Linked DNA regions of Homo sapiens. The protein of the gene in region 3 purifies or fractionates together with the protein of the main gene of each other region. This does not show direct contact. Each region holds a gene or a part of one and is shown on either strand. Other genes may lie near its edges.

Region 1 (4,193 bases), on a different chromosome or scaffold from region 3:
AGCTCTTGTGATGATCAAATGAAATAATGTGAAACCGGTTTATAAACCTAGAGTATTAATGTTATTCCGTGGAAAATTACATAAACACAAATATCTTTGGAAAGGTAATTTAAACAAAGTTGTAGAAAAGATAAAATAACATTATGCTAAGTCCTTTCATGTTTTTTCATTGTCCTTATTTATATTAGTTTAGAATACTTTATTTCAAAAATTTAAAAGTTTAAATACTTAAAAGGTTTCCAAATATTTACAGAATTGTGTCTGAAAAATTATGCACAGATGTTTGTCTATTGTTTTTCATTAATAAGATTAGCTACTGTCTACAGTGATAAGCATTTTAATAATAAAAAAGTCAGGAAAGTGTTATTTCTTAATATTTTAATTATCATTATAATTTGGCAGTAAAAATCACTTTTCACAAAGACATTACACTTACATTAACAAATCACTCTTGATTCATTCATTTTTGTTTTTCCATTTCTCCTGGCAGCTTTGTAAGAATCCATAACTTCAATATGTCTAACTCAGTTTTGCTTAGCTCATGGTAAACATTTGGAAAACTATGAAACTTCGTGGTCACTCCTAGAGATTTTAACATTGAGTTTGTCTCTTCTGCCCAAGAATGAAGAACTAACTCATCTGCAGTACCATGACACTGAAATAATTCAGGAAGTACACCATTACTCTTCTGAAGAGCCTAGAGAAGAAGATACAAAGACAGAAAAGTTTAAGAAATTCCATTTAAGATCATTCTTAGAAATCAGAGAGAACAGGAAAATTCCAATTTTACCAAGGCTTCAATAACTAATGGGAAAAAAAAGGCAGAGGGAGTGCTGTCTGAGGTATACATTGGTGGGCCAGGCCTGGGGACTTAGCTGGTTCCTGGCATCACTCAATTTGTAACTGTGTGTCACTTACATTTATTCTATAGAGGACGTCTTAAAAATGGCCAAAGCATTTCCTAAAGAAACTAAGTGACTTGGGAAGACAGACCTCTTCACACAATGTGGAAGGAGGGAGGAGTACACAGCTAAGGCACAATCAAGGGGACAATTACATTTTAGTTCTCTATTCTGTATCTGCTTTAACATTTCCACTTCTGGTACTGAAGCTGTAACATTATAATTGAAGCTGCATCATATTCATAGATGAGGATATTGCTGCATAATAAGTATGTGCTATGTAATTGATTTTTGTTTTATGTTCATGATGCAATAAGCAAACCCAGCTATAACCATCATGCAGTTTTAATATGTATAAAATTTACATATATGCTCCCCCACAACCACACACATGATTATCCTTTCCTCCTTGACATTTTGCTTAACAATATTTCTTGTACAGGGGATTTCCAAAACATTAATGATCAGCTGGAATTTAATCACTACGACTCATTTGGCCATGAATTCCAGGAATGGTCAATCCATATCAACTGTGCATCAACTGTGTGTGTGTTTTACAGCTTTATTACCGATTTTGCTTTAGTTTTAACATGTATATATTTCATATTTTTTTCATTTTTTTTTAAATCTGGAACTTACCTGGTAAACAGCAGATGCTTTATTCAGAAAACTAGAAAGAGCAAATACTCCTGCCACATCTTGATGATTTCTATATGCTAAATGTATTGCCATGCATCCTCCCATAGAGAATCCTCCTAAAAACAAAAACATACTTAAAAGTAGAATACATAAAATAATAATTTAGGATATGATATATAACAATTTTCCATATTTTTAAAATATCTGGAGACCTTTAAAGAGAATGCTAAAAAGAAATTTCGTCTACTCTAAGTTTCACAGACAAAGGCCTGCGATAACATAAATAACCCTGTTCCCTCTATGTCACCACTGGTAAAGAGAGCTGTGCTCTACAAGGAGCCAGGATTAAACAAATATATCATGTTCACCAAGTAAAATATCTATCGTAATTCAAAATGAGTCATATTACAAGCATTACTTAAATTCTCAATATTTACTTATATTTTGTTTACACGTACAGAAACCCTCACACTGCAACGCAATTAATAATTTGCACCTTTTTGTCTTACTTGCTAAGCTGTGAGCTCCATAAGGAGTTATGTATCTGGTGTTTGCTATATAATAGATGCTTAGTGAATTCTGAATTAAGAATGATAAAAAAAATTTGAGGAGCTAGTTAACACATTTTTGGATTACAATATTATTTTGGAAACTAATTTATGGTGATATAATAAAAATGAAACATGTATGCCTATATGTAGTTTTTAAAACCAAAGTTTGAAAAAAAAATTAGTCAAACTGTTATTGTCTCTTTAATGTACCAATTCTATGCCAGTCACTGGATATATGCAGATTAAAATACACAGACCCTCCTGTTCAGGGGAACTTTGAGAAGGAAACACATCCAACACAGAATATGGAGATAGCTGTTATGAGGTGACGGCAGCAGAGAGAATGGTGATTCCAGGCCTGACGACAAGTCAGTGACTCAGTGTGACATTCCTAAGCTTGAGAGAAAGCTAAATGACATCTCATTATATTCCATGAGAAAATACAGAATGTAAATCATGTAGCCACACACTCATAGAAATACAAAAATATACTTTGAAGTAGAATTCAAATCTCCTAATTTCAAGTCTGCTGCTTTATTTCACTTAACAAAGTGTAAAGCTGAGCTCTTAAGAGACCATAAATTTGAATTTACTACAATAATCTTTTATACATGGAGGGAACTGAGGCCCAAGATTAGGTACATATTATTTTAAATATAAAACTATTAATAGTAATTTTGGAATTCGGATCTTTTGCAATAGAGTTTAATATACTTTCTACTATCCCTTGATATTTATTAAAATAGGACTACTTTATCTGGAATAGGCAGGTAATATTATTTTGGACTCAGAACACAAATACCCGAGAGAAGATTACCAGTCTGGCAAAGTTTAGATTTTTTAAAAAAGGCACACTATGTAAATAATGAATAAAAGTTATCTGTGATTTTCAACATACCAGCAAGAAATAATAAGTTCTTATCGTAGCAGTAGCCCACCATGGACAAGAGCCACCTGAAAGGCTCTTTCAAAATACCCCCAATAACTCCAGATGTAGATACATCTAATTAGAAGTTCATAAATGAGCTTGGTGGGGGAGAAAAAAGCATAAGCATCTTAACACTGTATGTAAAATTTGCAAATGTACATTAGATTCTCCAAAAGGTTAAAAGCCACTGGGCTACATTATCCATGAATTTGTGCATTAATAAATCTTTGACATGTCCCATTTAGATATGAACAGCTTACGTAAATACACAAATTAGTATTTCTGGTAAACATTTATTGTAAGTACACAGAAAAAAATCTCAACTTTATTGTTTTTTGCCACAATTCTAGTTACAGATTTCTCTCTGCTTATGAAGTTTTCTCTTTAATAACATCATGAGGGTTGTAAAGCGAAGACATTTTGAAATAAAATTCTTATCGATTTAATTTATTGAATATAAATTATTGAGATTTTGAAACCCTTAAGGGTAAGAAACAGTTTTTCTTCAATAATCATATTTTCATTGAGTGCTTATGATTAGCTGAACAAAGTGTCTCTGTGGTGCACGCATACTAATGAGTCAGTTTCAACTTTACACGCTCAGTGGTAAGTATAGTGCTTTGCACATAGCAGTAACTCAATAAAAATTTAACTGAATTTTTAGAAACCGTATGGGTTTCTAATGAAAGTAGTAAAAAATTTACAAATATCTCTTAAGCTTATCAAAGAGACAACATTAAGGAAACTAGTTCTAGTCCTGCCTGTGATACTCCCAAGCTGAATGTCTTTGTGTAAATTATTTAAAATGCTGGATTTCATTTATAGTAAAACAAGATAGATGGACTAATCTCTAGATTTTCCACCAACCTTTTAAATACAAATACTTAATCAGTTATAAAAACTAAAATTGCGAGAACTTTTAAAATGTACAGTTACTGTAAATACAGAAATCTACTTTCAGTTTAAGAATCCCTATCTCTCAGAACACAATTCTAGCTTTCCTAAAAGTTCACAGAATAGAGCTTACCAAACACTCACTTCCTTCATCTCTTCCAATTTCCCCTCTGTTCTTTACAGCCCATTTACTTACAAAGGAATTTCAGGTTGCTTAAAATCAAACACACTGTTAATAATAAAACTACATCTCTAAAATAGGAGAGAATGTGAGAGAGG
Region 2 (4,193 bases), on a different chromosome or scaffold from region 3:
AGTCTCACTGTATTGCCCAGAGTGGAGTGCAGTGGCACAATCTCAGCTCACTGCGACCTCCGCCTTCCGGGTTCAAGCGATTCTCCTGCCTCAGCCTCCAGAGTAGATGGGATTACACAAGCATGCCACCACCCCAGCTCATTTATTTTAGTAGAGATGGGGTTTCACCATGTTGGCCAGGCTGGTCTCAAACTCCTGACCTCAGGTGATCTGCCTGCCTCAGCCTCCCAAAGTGCCAGTATTACAGGCATGAGCCATCATGCCCAGCCTGTCAAATAATTTTTGAAAGCCCTCCATGTTGCAGGCATTGTGCTAGGTGCCGGGGATATAGCAGTAAGCAGAAGCAGAACAGACAGGATTCTGCCCTTCGGGAACTTACACACTATTGTTTCCAACAAGCACTCACTATTAAAGCTAGGATGGACGTGCTAAAAAAAAAAAAAAAAAAAAAAAAAAAGAGAAAAAGAAAAAAGCTTTTCTTATTGAAAAAATAATCAATATATGATTCTTTCAGAAAAACATGCCAAAAACAAAAGAAAACCACCCTTAGAATCTCCCAGTGATAACGCTATTAACACCCTGGTGTGTAACTTTCTAGATCTGTGCAGCCCAATATGTCACTAGTCACATGTGGTTATTTAAATTTAATAAAAATTGTATAAAAATAAAAATACAATTCCTTGGCCACACTAGTCACATCTCAAGTTCTCAAGGGCCACATGGGTATAGTGGCCACCACATGGAAAAGCTCAGGTCCAGAATATTTCCATCTTCACAGAAAGTGCTGGTCTAGGTCCTAGTCTAGATAAATGCTCCCATACATATATAAACTTTTTTCTTACATAAAAGTGTTAAGATTAAAAAATACATGGCCAGGCGCATTGGCTCATGCCTGTAATCCCAGCACTTTGGGAGGCTGAGGCAGGTGGATCACCTGAGGTCGGGAGTTCAAGACCAGCCCGGCCAACCTGGTGAAACCCCATCTCTACTAAAAATACAAAAATTAGCTGGGCATGGTGGCAGGGGCCTGTAATCCTAGCTATTCGGGAGGCTGAGGCAGGAGAATCACTTGAACCCGGGAGGAGGAGGTTGAGGTGAGCCGAGATTGCGCCATTGCACTCCAGCCTGGGTGACAGAGTGAGATGCCATCTCCCAAAAACACACACACACACACGCGCGCGTGCGTACGCGCACATGCACTATTTGTTTTTGTTTGGAGACAGAATCGTGCTCTGCCTCAGCCTCCTGAAGTGCTGGGATTACAGGCATGAGCCACCACCATGCCCAGTCACATGTACTATTTTATAAACTGCTTGAGTCACTTTATATATACCTATGTTATTAATGGCTTCATAATATTTCATTTTATAAAAAGTCCATAGTGTATCTGACCCAACTTTCCTCATACTAAATATTTAAGTTGTTTCCAACTGTTCTGTGCTTACCAAACAGGTTTGTAAGGAACACCCCCAAGGCTAAATCTCTACATTTGGCCTTCGTGACTTGCTTTGGATAAATCCCCTTACATGGAATTGCTGGGTCTACCCCACCCCACTGGGCTGTGGACCTGGGGACACCAAACCTGTTGCACCACCATTCAGTTTATATATATACATATATTTTTTAATAAGATAGAGTCTTGCTATATTGCCCAGACTGGTCTCAAACTCCTGGGCTCAAGCCATCCTCCCACCTCAGCCTCCCAAGTAATTAGGGATGACAGGCATGAGCCACCCATCCAGCTTGCCCCACCATTTTAGATCATTTAACTGTCACAGGTGTCTGTCCCTGTTTGGCCTCCTCTACTCTCCCCTAACTTGTGCAGAGGAATCACATCTTGCATAGCTCTGTCAACTGCCATTGCACCTATCACACGTAATACTCAAAGCAGATGCTTGAAAAAACTGTTTTTTTGGCTCATTTCCAACTTTACCTTTTCATTTTGTAGTCCATCTCGGGGACCAACTTCCACAATTTTCACCCGCTTTGGTAAAGTGCCCATAGATGAGGTGCTGACCTTTGGTTTAAAAGAGGAAACAAAAAGTATGAGGAAGAGATTGCCACAATTCCCAGGGAGACCAATATGAAAGAATGGATCTATCTTCACTAATAATGAGACAAGAAGAAATATTTCTCACCATTTAATTCACATTTGGTCTATTTTAGAATTAAGAACAAAAAGAATATTTCACTTAGTAACAGGAACAAGCAAGAGATTCATCCTTCCAGTACCGGTTCTCCCCTGAAGTCCAGACTCCTTTTCCACTGCCTACCTGACAGCTCTATTCGCATCTCTTCATATAGCAGTCCCGAAACAGAACTCTAATTTCTCCTAAAGCCCATCTGACTCCATCCTTTCCATCTCTGTCAAAGGCATCGCATGTACCCTACTGCATAAGCCAGAACTTCATTGAGCCATTTCACCTATTCACCATGGCCTATAGGACTCTGTATGCTGCTGTATGTATGTTAGAAGTAGTTTAAAAAGGCCAGGTATTGCGGGGGGCAGTGGCTCATGCCTGTAATCCCAGTACTTTGGGAGGCCGAAGCGGGCGATCACTTGAGGTCGGGAGTTTGAGACCAGCCTGACCAACATGGTGAAACCCCATCTCTACTAAAAATACACAAAAAATAGCCGGGTGTGGTGGTGCACGCCTGTAACTCCAGCTACTCAAGAGGCTGAGGCAGGAGAATTGCTTGAACCAGGGAGGTGGAAGTTGCAATGAGCCAAGATCGTGCCACTGTACTCCACCTTGGGCGACAGAGGAAGACTCCATTTCCAAAAAAAATAAAAAAAGGCCAGGCACGGTGGCTCATGCCTGTAATCCCAGCACTTTGGGAGGCCAAGGCAGGCAGATCACTTGAGGCCAGAGGTTCGAGATCAGCCTGGCCAACATGATGAAGAAACCCCGTCTCTACTAAAAATAGAAAAATTAGCCAGGTGTGGTGGAATGGACATGTAGTCCCAGCTACTCAAGAGGCTGAGGTGGGAGAATCGCTTGAGCCCAGAAGGTTGAGCCTGCAGTGAGCTATGACTGTGCCACTACACTCCAGCCTGGGCAACAGAGCGAGACCCTGTCTCAAAAAAAAAAATTAAATGACTCTATATGTCACTTGATGCTTTCCAATTAAGAAAAGAAAAGACTGTATGAGTTGCCTCCTCTGACCTCCTGGAATCATCACTCGCCCCTACTGTCCACTCCCAACCTCCACCCAACAGGTTGCTAAGCTCCCTGCCTTCTCTTCCCTCTGCCCCAGGGTTCCTCATCTGGCTTTTTTTAAAAAAACTGGCTGTTCTTACATCTCTCTCTCATCTTTCAGTTGCAGAGAGGCTTCCTCTGACCACCCTTTGCAAAGCTGCCATTCCTCCCACCCCCATTATTTTCGCTATTGCAGAGCTATAATTATTTCCTTCAAAGCACGATAAAGAATGCCTACTCAATGTCTCTTCCAGTAGAACATAAGCTCTTTGAGGGACCTTGTCTGTCTCAACTCCACTTCATCCCTAGTGTTTGGCACCGTGTTTGGTACAAAGTAGCCACTCTTTAAAGTTATTAAAATAACACATAAACCATGAAGGACACAGCTGTCCCAGAAGAGAGCAATTACTGAGTGTGGGGAGGAGTAGTCAGTCCTGGACTTTTCGGGGTATGGGCGAGATGCAGGAGGGCTCTCTTCTGTTACAGTCATAGGCTGGGTGATGACAAGCATGGGTCTAAGGGGAGGTGACACCCCCAGTAGCTGAAGACAGTTTTTACAAAATGCCCTGAGTCTCCTCTATATAAAGTCAGCTCAAAATCTTAGTCTTCCCTATCAAGTAACACAATACTTTTTTTTTCCTCTTTCCTCTACCTGTCTTGATACTGTAACTTTTCAAATCAACTTTGTTTTACAGATTTAATCTGGATAAATATACTACAACGAGGCAAAGCGGAAGGCACACTGTGTGATCCGCTAAGGATCTCAACCCCCTGAAGTCCCCCAGGAATTCCCTGCTAGGAAGCAGCTGGAACATGTACAACTCACCTGACTGGCCTTGTTTTAGCCAACAAGCTTTCTTAGAGACTAAGGCGATGAGCCATTGAATTTCATGACGTCAACAGGCTAAGTTGGAAGGTCCCTGCAACTTGAATCTCCCTCCAACAGGGATGTTCAGCCTCTGCTAGTATATCACCCTAAAACTATCTCACTGG
Region 3 (4,193 bases):
GTAATGTGTGGAAATGCCTGTGTGTGTGTGTGTGTGTGTGTGTGTGTGTGTGTATGCTGATATACACAGAGATAAGTGTCACACAGACATACCTTATGACCTGGGTAATTGGGTAGGAAAGTGCCTGTGATGGGCCCTTTCAAACTCATGGCTTTCTAGATGCTATTTGGGTTGTTCTAGTCCACACTACTGCAGACTAGATTGGTTGATTCAAGGCTCACAAGGGAACCTCAAGGGGGGAAAGGACAATACCCCGTTTAAACAACTGATGTCATCAGTGTGATTTCAGAAGAAATAAAGGGTACACCATTCTCCCTTTCCCTCCCAATTCCTGTCTCTTTCACTGCTTCATCTCTGAGCCCTGGCTAAGGATTTTTTCCACATCTTCCTTCATCTGTTTCATCAGGTTTTGTTTTTAATTTACTTTTGTTTTTTTTTGTTTTTTTTTTTGTTTTGTTTTTAATTTCTATTTTTCTGGTTAACTCAGAAACCTTAAAAATTTCTTCATTTTGCCACTGTCTTCTCTGGACAACTCTTGCTCCCTTTCCCCCTGGGCTGGGCAACTCTATGAGCACCCACACTCCTCCACGATCATGTTCTGAATGTCCTTTTTGATGATGTTTTGACCATCATCATAGTACAACATGGACATGGGTCTCAGCTTGGTGGGCACACAGCACGATTTGAGGTTGGCAAAGGGGCTATGGCCCCGCATGCGGTAGTGGTTGATGACTGTTGAGTGGAAGGACAGTGAGGACCCGGACGTGCCTGCTATATGGCTCGGGCACTCACCCTCGCAGTAGTTGGCATGATAGCCAGAGGGAGCAATGATCCAGTCATTCCAGCCGATGTCCTTGAAACTGACAAAGAACTGTTTCTTACAGCAGATGTTGACCTTGCCATCACACTCCAAGCCCCGCCGACGCCGGCGATGAGGGTGGTCTTCAGACTGCCGGGCCTGCAGCATGAGGAAAGGTCTGTGCGACTGCTCCTTTTCCTCATCTGCTCCTGCCCCACCTTCACCTCCGCCCTTCTTTTTCCCTTCCCCCTCCTCTTCTTTCTTCTTCTTCTTGCCCAGGAGAACCAAGCTGGCGCCACTCTCCTGGCACTGCTCACAGGCAATCCGAACGTCCAGGGAGCTCTTGCCCTGGTCCAGCAACCGCTGGATGCTGCTGGAGACAGGGAAGACATGCCAGGTGCTCTTCCGAGCGTCTACTACTTTTTCAGAGAGCAACAGTTCACTCCTCTCCCCCTTTAAGCCCACTTCCTCGGCCTCTTCCCCTGTGTCCAAGCTGCCCTGCGGGTGCTTCTGCTGCTGGAAGAGGCGGATGGTGACTTTGGTCCTGGTCCTGTTGGCCTTGGGGACTTTTAGGAAGAGCCAGACTTCTGCACGCTCCACCACTGACAGGTCACTGCCTTCCTTGGAAATCTCGAAGTGCAGCGTCTTCCTGGCTGTTCCTGAAGATGAAAGACAGCATAAGAGAAAACAGGCACACCTGTTAATTCCAACATTTACATGCACTCGTAAATTTCAGGCAAGCAGGAGTCTTCTGTGACAGACCCTCTTGAATAGGGGTCAACAAATGACAGCCCATGGGCTGAAACTGTTTCTGTACTGCCTGCAAACTAAGAATGGCTTTTATACTTTTAAGTGGTTAAAGAAAAGTGATATTTTGTGACATGTGAAAATTACCTGAAATTTAAACATTAGTGCCTGTAAATAAAGTTTTGTTGGAGCATGGTTATGCTCATTTCTGTACATGCTGCCTATGGCTGTTTTTGCACTATAATAACCAAGGACTGCGTAGCTGCAACAGACTGCCTGGCTCACAAAGCCTAAATTATTTACTCTCTGGCCCTTTATAGAAAAAAGGTTTTGGACCCTTGCTTTAGAATGAAGAGGGCCTGCGAGTCTGTGTCTGTTGACTAATTGCTCAACCTCAGTTTCATCTTCTATAAAAATGGGAATGACATAAGGACATTTGACCTGTTATCTCACAGGTTTAGGAAGGTCAAATGAGATAACATAAACAAAAAGACACTGTAAGCTCTAGAAAGCTAAGGAAATACTATTCTCAGACAAAAATGCAGCCCCTGGCCCCACCTCGCTGTGTAAGTCTGTGCAGTCGAGACACACTTGAGCCAGCCTCTTCTTCCCTTGTCACAGCCTGATTCCTCCGCCATCACCTCTTTGCTGGGTCACTGCAGCAGCATTTTCTTTACTTTGCCTCTGCAACACTAAGGAAGGCCTCCTCTCCAGTCATTTCTCCATGAAGCAGCTAAAGGCATCTTTCCCACAGGTGGATCTGATCACATCACTTCTTCTTGAAAGTCCTTTACTGAATTCCTATTGCTCAGTATCCAACAGAAAGTGGCTGGGACTTTGGGCTCTGTACATGCTGTTCCTCCCTTGAATGTCAGCTCTTGCCCAGTCCTGTTCTCTGGGGTCTAAGGCCTTGAGAATTCCACCCCCTTTCTCAACTGCAGGCAGTGACACCTGCTGTTCCTTCTGCCTTAAGTGCTCCTGCCCCAACTCCAACATACCACCCTTAGTGCTGCCTTTAATAATGTTTCAATTTTCAGATTGTTTGGATGACAGTTCCTCTAGGAGGCTTACCTCACATCACCTCCACCACCACCCTCCTGCCAGCCTGGTTTAGAATGCCCGGGGTCTAAGGTCACTATCATAGTCTAGTGTTTAGCAGAAAGTAGCCAATGACTTGATTACTTATTAACAAATAGAGGCGTCCTTAGCATTGAGTTCTATTAAATTAAGAGAGCCACCTAGTACCTCTGAATCCCCCATTTTTGCCTCTGACCCATTACAGGGCAGATTAATGGGCACCAGAAACATATGTCAAATAGCAATCGCTGCTAATGGACAGGAAATCCCCACATTGTCAGGGCAGTTGAATTTAGCAACCACTCAGTTCCAGCCTAACTCTAAAATTAGAAAGTCACCTATTTCCTTCTCTTTTCCTAAGCAACTGTATGTTTAATGACACAGCAACAATTACTATGAAAGCAGGTATCCAAACTAAAATTTTTTGATTAATCAAATATTTTCCCTCACTTCCATTTTTCCCACTTGGTGGCATATAGAAACATATCCTCTTTTCCATGACCGTGGACCTCCTTACAACTGTCTGCTGTACATGTATCCCATGCACAAATCTGGGAACAATCTTCAAGAAGTTCATCTTAGAACTTGCAACTCCCTGGGAGGATCTCCCTGCCTGGATTTCTATAGTTAACGGAAATCCAGCCATACTTATCACTCGAGGCCCTGAGATGTTTACGGTACTATAAATTTTAGGCACAGTTTCAAGTTCTCTGCAGCAGAAGGCAGGCTTTTCTGTGCATTGCGTACTGTGGATTCTGTTCTTAATTTAACACACTCTGCACACTGTGATTATGATAGTGGTAAATTCACTGAGGCAAGGGCCAAGCAGGGCTGCAGATGGATAGGAAAGGTTCTCTGGCATCTTTCTATAAACTTACGAGGATGCTGGCCATGATGATGGTGGCGGTGGTAAGGGGAGTTCCTCTGACTCCGACCTCATGTCTTTGGCAGGAGTTGAAATGAATAATAAAGCTGGGTTTATGATTAGATAGAATACCAGAGCAGAGAGAGCAGTTAGAGGGAGAAGCTGTCTTATTTTAGGAAGCATGATGACTTATTTTTTCAAAATCTGAATTCGATATTCCCCTTTGCTAAGAATTGGTGTGGGTTTTGTTGTTGTTGTTTGTTTCTTAACAAAATAAAAGAGAAGAAGATTCCCATAAGCAGAGCTTAATCATTTAAATCTAAAAAGGCAATCAGCAGTTGATTTTAGGGTGGCAGGGTCCTGCCAAGGCCTTAGGAGAAGGCCGAGGGAAACCTCCCAAGCCTTGGATAACTAGCCTGGAGGGTGTGCAGGTTTCCTCCAGCTTGGGCACATCTGCCTTGCCCCATAGAGAATGTTAACAAGATACCTGCTGTTTTCCCTTCTGCCTCTATGCAGGACAGCTTCTGAAATCCTAAACTGCACAGGGTGTCACTCCAAAAACAGACAGATAGTAGCTGCTAAATTAGAGAACCCAGAGGGCACAAGGTTGGGTTTTGTTTTTCTAGGAAAGAGTGTAAAACTGGAGTGTCTGACTAGTGCCCCGGATAGGGAGGCTTAATAGGTTTGGGGTAACTCATCCCCATG
Region 4 (4,193 bases), on a different chromosome or scaffold from region 3:
GGAAATGCAGAGCAGTGGGCGAGCTGGACAGAGGTGGGCAGAAGGGCCCTGGGTATGGGGCTCAGGTCTTGGGACTTGCCTCTCAGTGGTGGAGAGGTCTGGGTGGGTCATAAGCCAGGAGTAACATCCTGGAGGTGTTGGAAAGACCACTCTGAGGGCGGCGAGGGGCTGACCAAGCTAGGAGGCAGGGAGACAGTGCAGGCCACCACCAGTCCAGGCAAAGCATGACAAAGGCCTAGGAGCGAGGACAGAGGGATGGAGGAGAGGGGACATTTCCGAGGCAGGACACATGGGCTCTGCACAATCTGTCTCGCCTAATAATCTGTGATCATCCATCCCAGCTCCTAGGCCTTGTCCCTTGAGGACATCTCTGGGTCCCCAAAAGGGCTTAGGACCCAGAAGCGCTTCAGCTGATGTCTGCTGCCATGGGTAGGGCACACCTGACTCCCACCCCACCCCGCCCCACCCACCCGGGCCCACCAGCACCTCACCTGTCCCACCATGGTCTTGGCGAGGATCTCAGCCCTGCGCGGCCCACTCAGCATGTCTGCCGCCTTCAGGAAGATCTGGGCCCGGTCTGCAATAGGCTTCAGGTCCCACTCTTTCCGGGCAGCCAGGGCAGCCTCAATGGCTTTGTTGAGCAGGCTCTAAAGGGAGAGGGAGAGGTTGGGGACTGCCACCTGCAGCGGGAAAGGCCCTGGGGAGTGAGCGAGGGAGGAGAGACCTGGGAGGCCACTCTCTTCCATCCGGGGACAATGCCTGTCTCCCTGGGCCCTCAGCCCCCTGCCACCATAGCTGCCAACAACAGCGTCCCATCAGAGCCTGTAGTGGCTGCCAGTCTGAAGCCTGAAGGGCCCGGCCAGGTTGGTCAGCTCTCCGAGGCCTTGGCACTGAGTCCCGCAGCTGTTACACTGGCTCCACTTTCTCTCATGGTCTAATCAAAACCTTACCTTATTCTTGGGACCTGGTGCCCCTTAACCCACCATCCAGAAACTTGAGGTCAACTGGAGCCTGAGACACGGCTCTGCTGCTGGCCTCCCAGACCCCAACTGCCCTCATCGCCACACAATGCCAGTTCCTGGACCCCCAGCCACCCCAGCCCCTCCTGCTGGCCCTTTCCAGTGCCAATTCTTGGCCTAGCTTTCCATCAATGGTGTCTCCAATTGCCCTGACTCAGCCTTCCAGAATCCACCTCCTCCCCAGTCCAAGGTCTGCCCCACCACAATGGGCATGTCTGGGAATGTCTCAGCCCTGGCTGAGGCAGCTTGTGTTTGGCTCAAGTTAACCTTTGTATGCCTGGCCCAGTCAAAGACATCACCCAGGGACTCCCTCAGTGTCAGCCACCCCCTGCCCACCTACCCACCATGGCCAAAGAAGGACACAGCAACTGATGCCCCCTGCCCCCGCCATATCAGCAGCTGGCAGGGCAGAGCAGGGGCAGCAACCCTAACCCCGGGTCACCAGGCACACAGGCTCACTCACCTTGTCTGCATAACAGAACTTGGCCACCTTATGTCCATGGTTAAAAGGCTGAAAGGAGAGAAGAGTGAGGTCCTTGCCCGGGAGGGAGGTGCCAGGATAAGGATGAAGAGGACTGGACTCAGAGCCGGTTTTCCAGGAAAGTCCTGGACACGCCTGCTGTCCCCCCTCCCCCGCTCCCATGAAACCCTCCCCAGTGCCCGGCCCACAGGTTGCTCCCTGTTAAGGGTGCTGGTGTACCCGCTATACCATGAGTAAGACATGGCTCCTTCTCCAGAAGGCTCAGAGTCCAGGAGAAAGGCATAGACCCCAGGGTCTTTCCAGGAAAGCACGGACCTTTGTGGTCAGAGAGACATGGGTTCGAATCCTGGCTCTGCCACCTACTAGCTGTGGGGCCCCAGGTAAGCTCACTTCCTTCCCTAAGTCTCTTCATCTAGGAAATGGGGACTGCCCTCCCTGTCTCTTAGCATGGACAGGAGAACCAAAGGGGATCATGGATGAAAATTCTTTGGTCCAGTATGAGGCTGCGACTATGGGCAACAAAACCAGGTGAGGCCCAAAAGAATGCACCGGTGTTGTGACATGCTTGGGACTTCCGCCCTGCCCCGAAGCCATCATGGACAGAGCAATTGTTTCCTAAGCCCCAGATTTACTAATCTAAATAGGAAGATCCTCAACAAACATTTATAAACACAACCTGGTGTTGGTCCAAACCGCACCATTTTGTCAGCTCCCCGCTATTTTGCAGACCTCGGGCCAAGTGAAACATTTCACAGGAGCTCAGGCCATGAGAACCATCCGGCTCAGCCGCCTGACCGCAAGGCGGACGAAGGCCCACCTAAAGAAACTTCCCTGTTGGCCGGGCGCGGTGGCTCACACCTGTGATCCCAGCACTTTGGGAGGCCAAGGCGGGCGGATCACAAGGTCAGGAGATCGAGACCATCCTGGCTAACATGGTGAAACCCTCTCTCTACTAAAAATACAAAAAATTAGCTGGGCGTGGTGGCGGATGCCTGTAATCCCAGCTACTGGGGAGGCTGAGGCAGGAGAATGGCATGAACCTGGGAGGCGGAGCTTGCAGTGAGCCGAGATCGCACCACTGCACTCCAGCCTGGGCGACAGAGCGAGACTCCGTCTCAGAAAAAAAAAAACCATCCCTATCATATCTTGCTGGGTAAAGGTACAAGGAACACCACGATGACATCCCACCGGAGAGGGCCAAACCACCTGATCATAACAACATCTTATCAATATCCTGCCAGGCAGCAAGCCATACTGCCCAGACCCGTCTCACCCATACCGATGAGTACCTCAGCCTGTAAGCAGCGGTGGGCCCTGGCATTAAGCTGGTCCCCCACTTCCTCAGGTTTCTGCAATATACTGGTGTTGCTGTTTCAGCTGCCCTCTCTCTGTGTGTGTGTCTTTCTTTAACCCCTGTCTTCCCTTCAAAACCTAATGCCCGGCAGTGGTGAACGCTAGCATGACCAATGAAGCAGGGAGAAATTTCACTTCTTTCCTTCCTAGGGCTGGCAAGATAGTTTATATCGTAATAGCTGACACTTTTGCTACCTATCCGTCTTCTGGTGGGTTATTGGAGCTTTCCTGTCTAAAAGAGTAGCCACGAGCCACATTTCACATGCTCAACAACCACACGTGGCGGCTCATGGCCGCTGGAACGGACAATGCAGATCTGGAACATTTCTGTCCTCACTGCAGGAAATTCTACTGGCCGGCGCTGGTCTAGGCTTGAGTAGAAAGTGACCATTCTCCTTCATGTTAAAGCTTGGCACAGTCACTCTGTATTCGGGCCACACCTGAGATTGGCCTGTGATGCTTAAGGGCAGAGAAGGTGGCTGCGACCTGGGCCCCAGTGGACTGCAGAACCCCGTCAGCACTATGTCCCGGCAAACATAGATCCTGCCCTCACATGCCCCAGAACCCCAAATGTCTCGTGCCACAGTGATCAGCACATGGCCAGAATCTCCAGCCAGGTCGGCAAGGCAATGTGGGAAATGAAAATCAGCAGTATCCACCCAGGGGCTTATCAGAATGCCGGAGCCTCGCTGCCTGGAAAAATCCCAGCTGCCATGCAGCCTCAGACGCCTGCGGAGCTACAGGTGAGGGCAAGCTCTAGGCAGCTACAGAGACAACCAGGGAGCTGGGTGGCAGGTGCTGCTGTCAGCTGGCACCTGCACACACACCCAGTGACAGACAGAGTGACCTGGCCAATGCCTGCAGACCCCAGGCCATGCTTGGACAGCTCCAGGTAGTCCTGACCCAGCAACTAGAGCTCCAGGACACTGCTGTGGTCAACTCCTGCCCCAGGCTGTCCTGGGAACCTTCAGAGTGGGGGACCTGGGTCCTCCCCCTCAGTCACCCCTCCCCCTGCACACGTCTGCCCAGGGTTTCAGCCGGACAGAGCCAGAATGTGCTTGCCCTGTTTGCAAAAGGGCTGACCTTTTATTCTCCCTCAAATCACAGACCTATGAGTTTCCTGGCCCACGTAAAGTGCATGCCAGTTTCTGGATGGATAAACTCCAAGCATGGGGGCTTCTTAGGCCAATGCCATCTGAGGTGCTCGGGGCCCGGGGCCCAGCTTTTTGTCATTAGCTCCCAAACCCCCTTGGCAAGAAATCTATGAGGAATAACAGAAGATGCTGTGTGGCCCCCTCATGGCCTTTCTTGCCCAGACACAGGATGCCGCTATGGGCTGG
Region 5 (4,193 bases), on a different chromosome or scaffold from region 3:
ATTGGAATGTGCTGGCCCTTCTGATGACTTTAGCATTGGAAAAACTGAGGGTGAGACCATGATTACAATGGCAGTGCATGTGGGTAGTGACATGAGTTTTGCAGGTGCTGACAAAGGAAAAAACATTCATACTCTACTATGTTTGAAGCCACAGGGCTGGGGTCCACTCTGTGGGATCTGCTTCACTAGTAAAAATATCTAATAACAAAGTTCAATTCAAAAAAGCTACATTCCAGTAGCTATATTTGGGTCTAAGACAGACCACTTGTTAAGCAACGCGGCACTATGTTCTCATTTATATGTGAGAGCTAAAGAATTTGAACACATGGAGGTAGAGAGTGGAAAAATGGATAACAGAGCCTGGAAAGGGGGTTTCCTACCCTGGAAAGCAGGGGGTAGGGGGAGGATGAAGAGGAGTGGCTTAAAGTCCACAAACATACAGTAAGAGAAAAGGAATACACTCAGTGTTTGATGGCAGAGTAGGAGGATGACACTTAACAAAAATGTATTGTATTCGGGTGACAGACACCCTAAATACCCTGACTCGATTACTATGCATTATATATGTGTAACAAATTTTCTCAAGTACCCCAGAAACTTGTATACACACACACACACACACACACACACACACAGACACACAGAGAGAGAGAGATAAATGTAGCACTGTAAAAAGTGGTGTTATAATGAAGAACCACTGAGGGTTGTTCTCTCAGAAAATGAATGAAAGCTGAGATTGCCAAATGCAGTTTAAATAATGTTTCCACCTCTTACCCGGCAGTCATTCAACATTCACAAAAGTTGATTTTTCGGATGCCTACTAGGCCAGCCACCACGTTAGGTGCCAGGGGTTACAGCAGTGATGGCAAATGCTATGAAGGAAGAGTTCTGCTAGAAGCAACCCTAGCTGGGGGCTAGGAGAAGGTTTGCCAGAGAAAGTGAGATTTGGGCCGAGAGCTACAAGGTAGGTCTGAATGAATGGGTGGAGAGTGTGGGGAGGGATGACGGGAGAGAAGAAGGAAAGCTGGGTGCAAAGGCCTTAAAAGAGAAGGGAGCCCAGGGCATGTGAGAGCTCAAGGGTGGTGTGGCCAAAGTACCGTGTCAAGAGGGAAGATGGCTGGATTTGAGGATAGGGGTGGGAGCCAGGGGCCGTTAGGACCTTATTAGCCATCTCATACTTTTCTTTTTCCTTGAAAGCACTGGGCAGCCACCAAAGGTTTTGAGCTGGGGAGTGATATGGTCAGATCTGTGTTTTCCAAAGAACTCTTTGGCTGCAGTGTGGAGAATGGGTTGGCTGGAGCAAGAATGGCCATGCACAGAGAAGGTGATGGTGACTTGGCCCCACGGGGAGGTGACAGCGGTGCATGGAAGTGAAATGACAGGAAGGTTATTTAGGAGTCAGAATAGAGATGCTGTGTCCAGAGAAAAGTTTCAGGTTTCTACAACTCGATGGATATCAACACCCCGAGAAGGGCACAATGGAAGAGGAAGACCAGGCCTGTGGAGTGTTGCTGGGCAGCTGGGTTTCATAGCTGGACCTATTCCAACTGGCCCCTCACTGCCAACACATGCAATCAGAAAACTGTAAACCAGCTTAGCTTACCGGTTCCGTTCCCTTTTCTCTTGTGACGTAGAACTGCTCCGGGGTTAGTTTCTTTTGCCACTCACTCTTGGCAAGAGGCAGCTCACACGTTGCAAGAGACCCTGTATTGTTAAACAGGAATTTTAAAAATTAAAACAAAAATGCCTGATGGACTTTTCTTCCTTGACCTTTTTCCCTAAGTGTACTGTCACCCAGCAGAATAATCCAGTCCCTTCCTCTCTCTCCCACGAGTTTATTCTTCATGGGGACCAGAAGGCTCAGGCACAAAATGCCTTCATTGACTATTTAATTTAATAAGAAATTAACAAGAAGTAGAGAGCCAGTTTTCTAGTCTTCCTGGGGCACAGAAGTGAAAGAGGCAGCTGAAATATGAAAGAATGCGGAATACATTCCCTTCGGGTACCTAAGGGTAGAAACTGATCCTCTCTTCTCTGATGACTTTTAGAGGAGCAGTTGCTGTCAGAATCTAGCCAGAAGTAGTTGAGGCATTGGGCAGAAAAGAACTGTGAGCTAGTCGGTTATTAAACTCTTCTCCCTTGCTAGTTTATAAGGATATCTCTGATTTTCTTTGTCAAGGGAGGTCTCTATTTTAAAAATCTTCTTGCATGGAACAAAAGAAGAAACTCCCATAGCATATAGTCCTGAAAGAGAAACAGACCTACCATAATCTATTATGATGCTTCATGGTTTTTGTCCATATTTTGTTTTCTTCTTTCCTACTCACCTTGGCATCTATATTACTACATTTATTCACGTGAGTGTAAACCAAGTAACTAGAGCAATACTCTCTTTAGCCAAAGGGAGTAGGAAGCCCAACTCCTATAATAAATGTTTTTAATCATCCAACATTAAGAATCTGAAAGGATTTTATAATGTGTCCAACTCTTCAGTTTGCAGATGAGAAACAGAGGCCCAAAGGGTTAGTAATCTGACTATGGCACTGAAGATGAAACGTTGAATGCCCGTGATGCCAGCACCTATATATCAAACACGTCAGAAGTTACAGTTGAAATTCATTTTAGGTTACAAAAAAAGTCCTAAATTATCCTTCGGCAAGAAAAGACTTATCTCCTCTCCAGTTTATAATACTGAACAATACTGCATTTCCAGTGATACATATAGTTGATTGCTTACATTTTGCTAAAAGGTTTTTAGGCTATTTAATATATTAAAAGTTTTCTTCTTTCTTTTTATTACTGTTATTATTTTTACACAAGGGCTCCCCTAGGAGGTATCTTTTATTAAATACAATCTTTATAAGACTACAGGGGTTTCTTTTTGCTATGAAAATAGATCTCTGAAATTCCTATGGAATATACCTCAGTTAACACATGATTTTTGGGGTATTCGACACTTTGGGAACAAAACAAAATGTATTTATGTGATAATTACTATTGCTCAATGGCCTTCAGAGTTATCACGCAGAATGTCAAGTAATAAATGAAGAAGGAAGTATAGAATTTTTAAAATCACCATTTTGTAAAAATCATCAGAGGATTCTAAAACCCCTGGGTGAAAGACTACTGGGGAACAGATAGTCACATCTTCTCAAAATACAACCCCAAAGTTTATTAATTACAAAAAAGAAAATGCCACTACTTTAACCAAGTAGGCTAAGTTAGCATCACCAACAGTGGGACAAGTGACATCCTGTCTTCCTGATGTGATGCTCTGGAAAGGACACAACATCACCAGTAAAGTTTTCCTGCTGAAAACATTCAATCAGTGTCTCATGAAGAAAAAATCACATAAGTGAAAATTGAGGGAAATTATTCAAAAGAAGGACTGTCCACAACTAAAACCAATGTGTGACCCTTTATTAAATTCTAGATCCCAGAAAAAAAAACAAGAGCTATAAAAGACATTGTTGGTATATGGTGGGAAATTTGAATATCAACTGTGTATTAGACAAGGGTGCTCAATTTCCTGAGAGGAAAACTGTCTTGCAGTTTTGTAGGAAAACATCTTTGGTCTTAGGAAACATGCCGAAATATTTAGCAGTAAAGTGTCATGATGTCTGCAACTCTCAAATGGTTTAGCAAGAGAAATATAAATAAGTAAGTGTGAGTGTGTGAGTGTACGTTTGCGCGTGTGTGTCTCAGTGTTGGGGAGAGAGATGGGGAAGAGCACATGAATCTAGAAAGGAACTGCATCTCTATGAGATTTTTCCTAATAGCCCATAATCCCAGTTTAATTGTGAGGAGAAACATCAAACAATCCCAGACTGAGGGACATTCTACAAGGAACCTGACCAGTCCTCCCCAAAACTGTAAAGGTCATGAAAGACAGAGACAGTTTTGACAAATGTACTATGATGATGTCAGAAGATTACCAGGGGGATCCGGATGAGGGGTCTTGAGAACTCTGTACTGTCTTTATAACTTGTCTATAAATCTAAAATTATTCCAAAATAAAAAAGCTTATTTAAAAAACTATCTTCTCCATGGCTACCCGTGTACCATCAAGCACTACTGGAGAAAATCCCCCACCTGGGGAGAGGGTTGTCCTTATAAACTCAAAGTTACTCATCTCACTGGGGTTTCAGTGAACCATGGAACCATCTTTCCCCAGTCAGCTCTCTTCCCATTTC

What was found.
Region 1: the proteins of INHBA (region 3) and LYPLAL1 fractionate together in Homo sapiens (co-fractionation; one large-scale study listed by BioGRID). This does not show direct contact.
Region 2: the proteins of INHBA (region 3) and HMGCL fractionate together in Homo sapiens (co-fractionation; one large-scale study listed by BioGRID). This does not show direct contact.
Region 4: the proteins of INHBA (region 3) and ALDH4A1 fractionate together in Homo sapiens (co-fractionation; one large-scale study listed by BioGRID). This does not show direct contact.
Region 5: the proteins of INHBA (region 3) and MSRB2 fractionate together in Homo sapiens (co-fractionation; one large-scale study listed by BioGRID). This does not show direct contact.

The regions. Positions count from the first base shown.
Region 1 is NC_000001.11:219,207,996-219,212,188, reverse strand, and holds part of LYPLAL1 (lysophospholipase-like protein 1), read right to left. Parts: intron 1,675-4,193; coding exon of another isoform or gene 1,658-1,674; coding exon 1,542-1,657; intron 698-1,541; coding exon 461-697; 3' UTR 1-460.
Region 2 is NC_000001.11:23,818,577-23,822,769, forward strand, and holds part of HMGCL (hydroxymethylglutaryl-CoA lyase, mitochondrial isoform 1 precursor), read right to left. Parts: intron 2,018-4,193; coding exon 1,934-2,017; intron 1-1,933. UniProt on the Homo sapiens protein: Mitochondrial 3-hydroxy-3-methylglutaryl-CoA lyase that catalyzes a cation-dependent cleavage of (S)-3-hydroxy-3-methylglutaryl-CoA into acetyl-CoA and acetoacetate, a key step in ketogenesis. Terminal step in leucine catabolism.
Region 3 is NC_000007.14:41,689,085-41,693,277, forward strand, and holds part of INHBA (inhibin beta A chain preproprotein), read right to left. Parts: intron 1,459-4,193; coding exon 566-1,458; 3' UTR 1-565. UniProt on the Homo sapiens protein: Inhibins/activins are involved in regulating a number of diverse functions such as hypothalamic and pituitary hormone secretion, gonadal hormone secretion, germ cell development and maturation, erythroid differentiation, insulin secretion, nerve cell survival, embryonic axial development or bone growth, depending on their subunit composition.
Region 4 is NC_000001.11:18,884,982-18,889,174, forward strand, and holds part of ALDH4A1 (delta-1-pyrroline-5-carboxylate dehydrogenase, mitochondrial isoform a precursor), read right to left. Parts: intron 1,531-4,193; coding exon 1,483-1,530; intron 648-1,482; coding exon 492-647; intron 1-491. UniProt on the Homo sapiens protein: Irreversible conversion of delta-1-pyrroline-5-carboxylate (P5C), derived either from proline or ornithine, to glutamate. This is a necessary step in the pathway interconnecting the urea and tricarboxylic acid cycles.
Region 5 is NC_000010.11:23,101,655-23,105,847, reverse strand, and holds part of MSRB2 (methionine-R-sulfoxide reductase B2, mitochondrial precursor), read right to left. Parts: intron 1,705-4,193; coding exon 1,604-1,704; intron 1-1,603. UniProt on the Homo sapiens protein: Methionine-sulfoxide reductase that specifically reduces methionine (R)-sulfoxide back to methionine.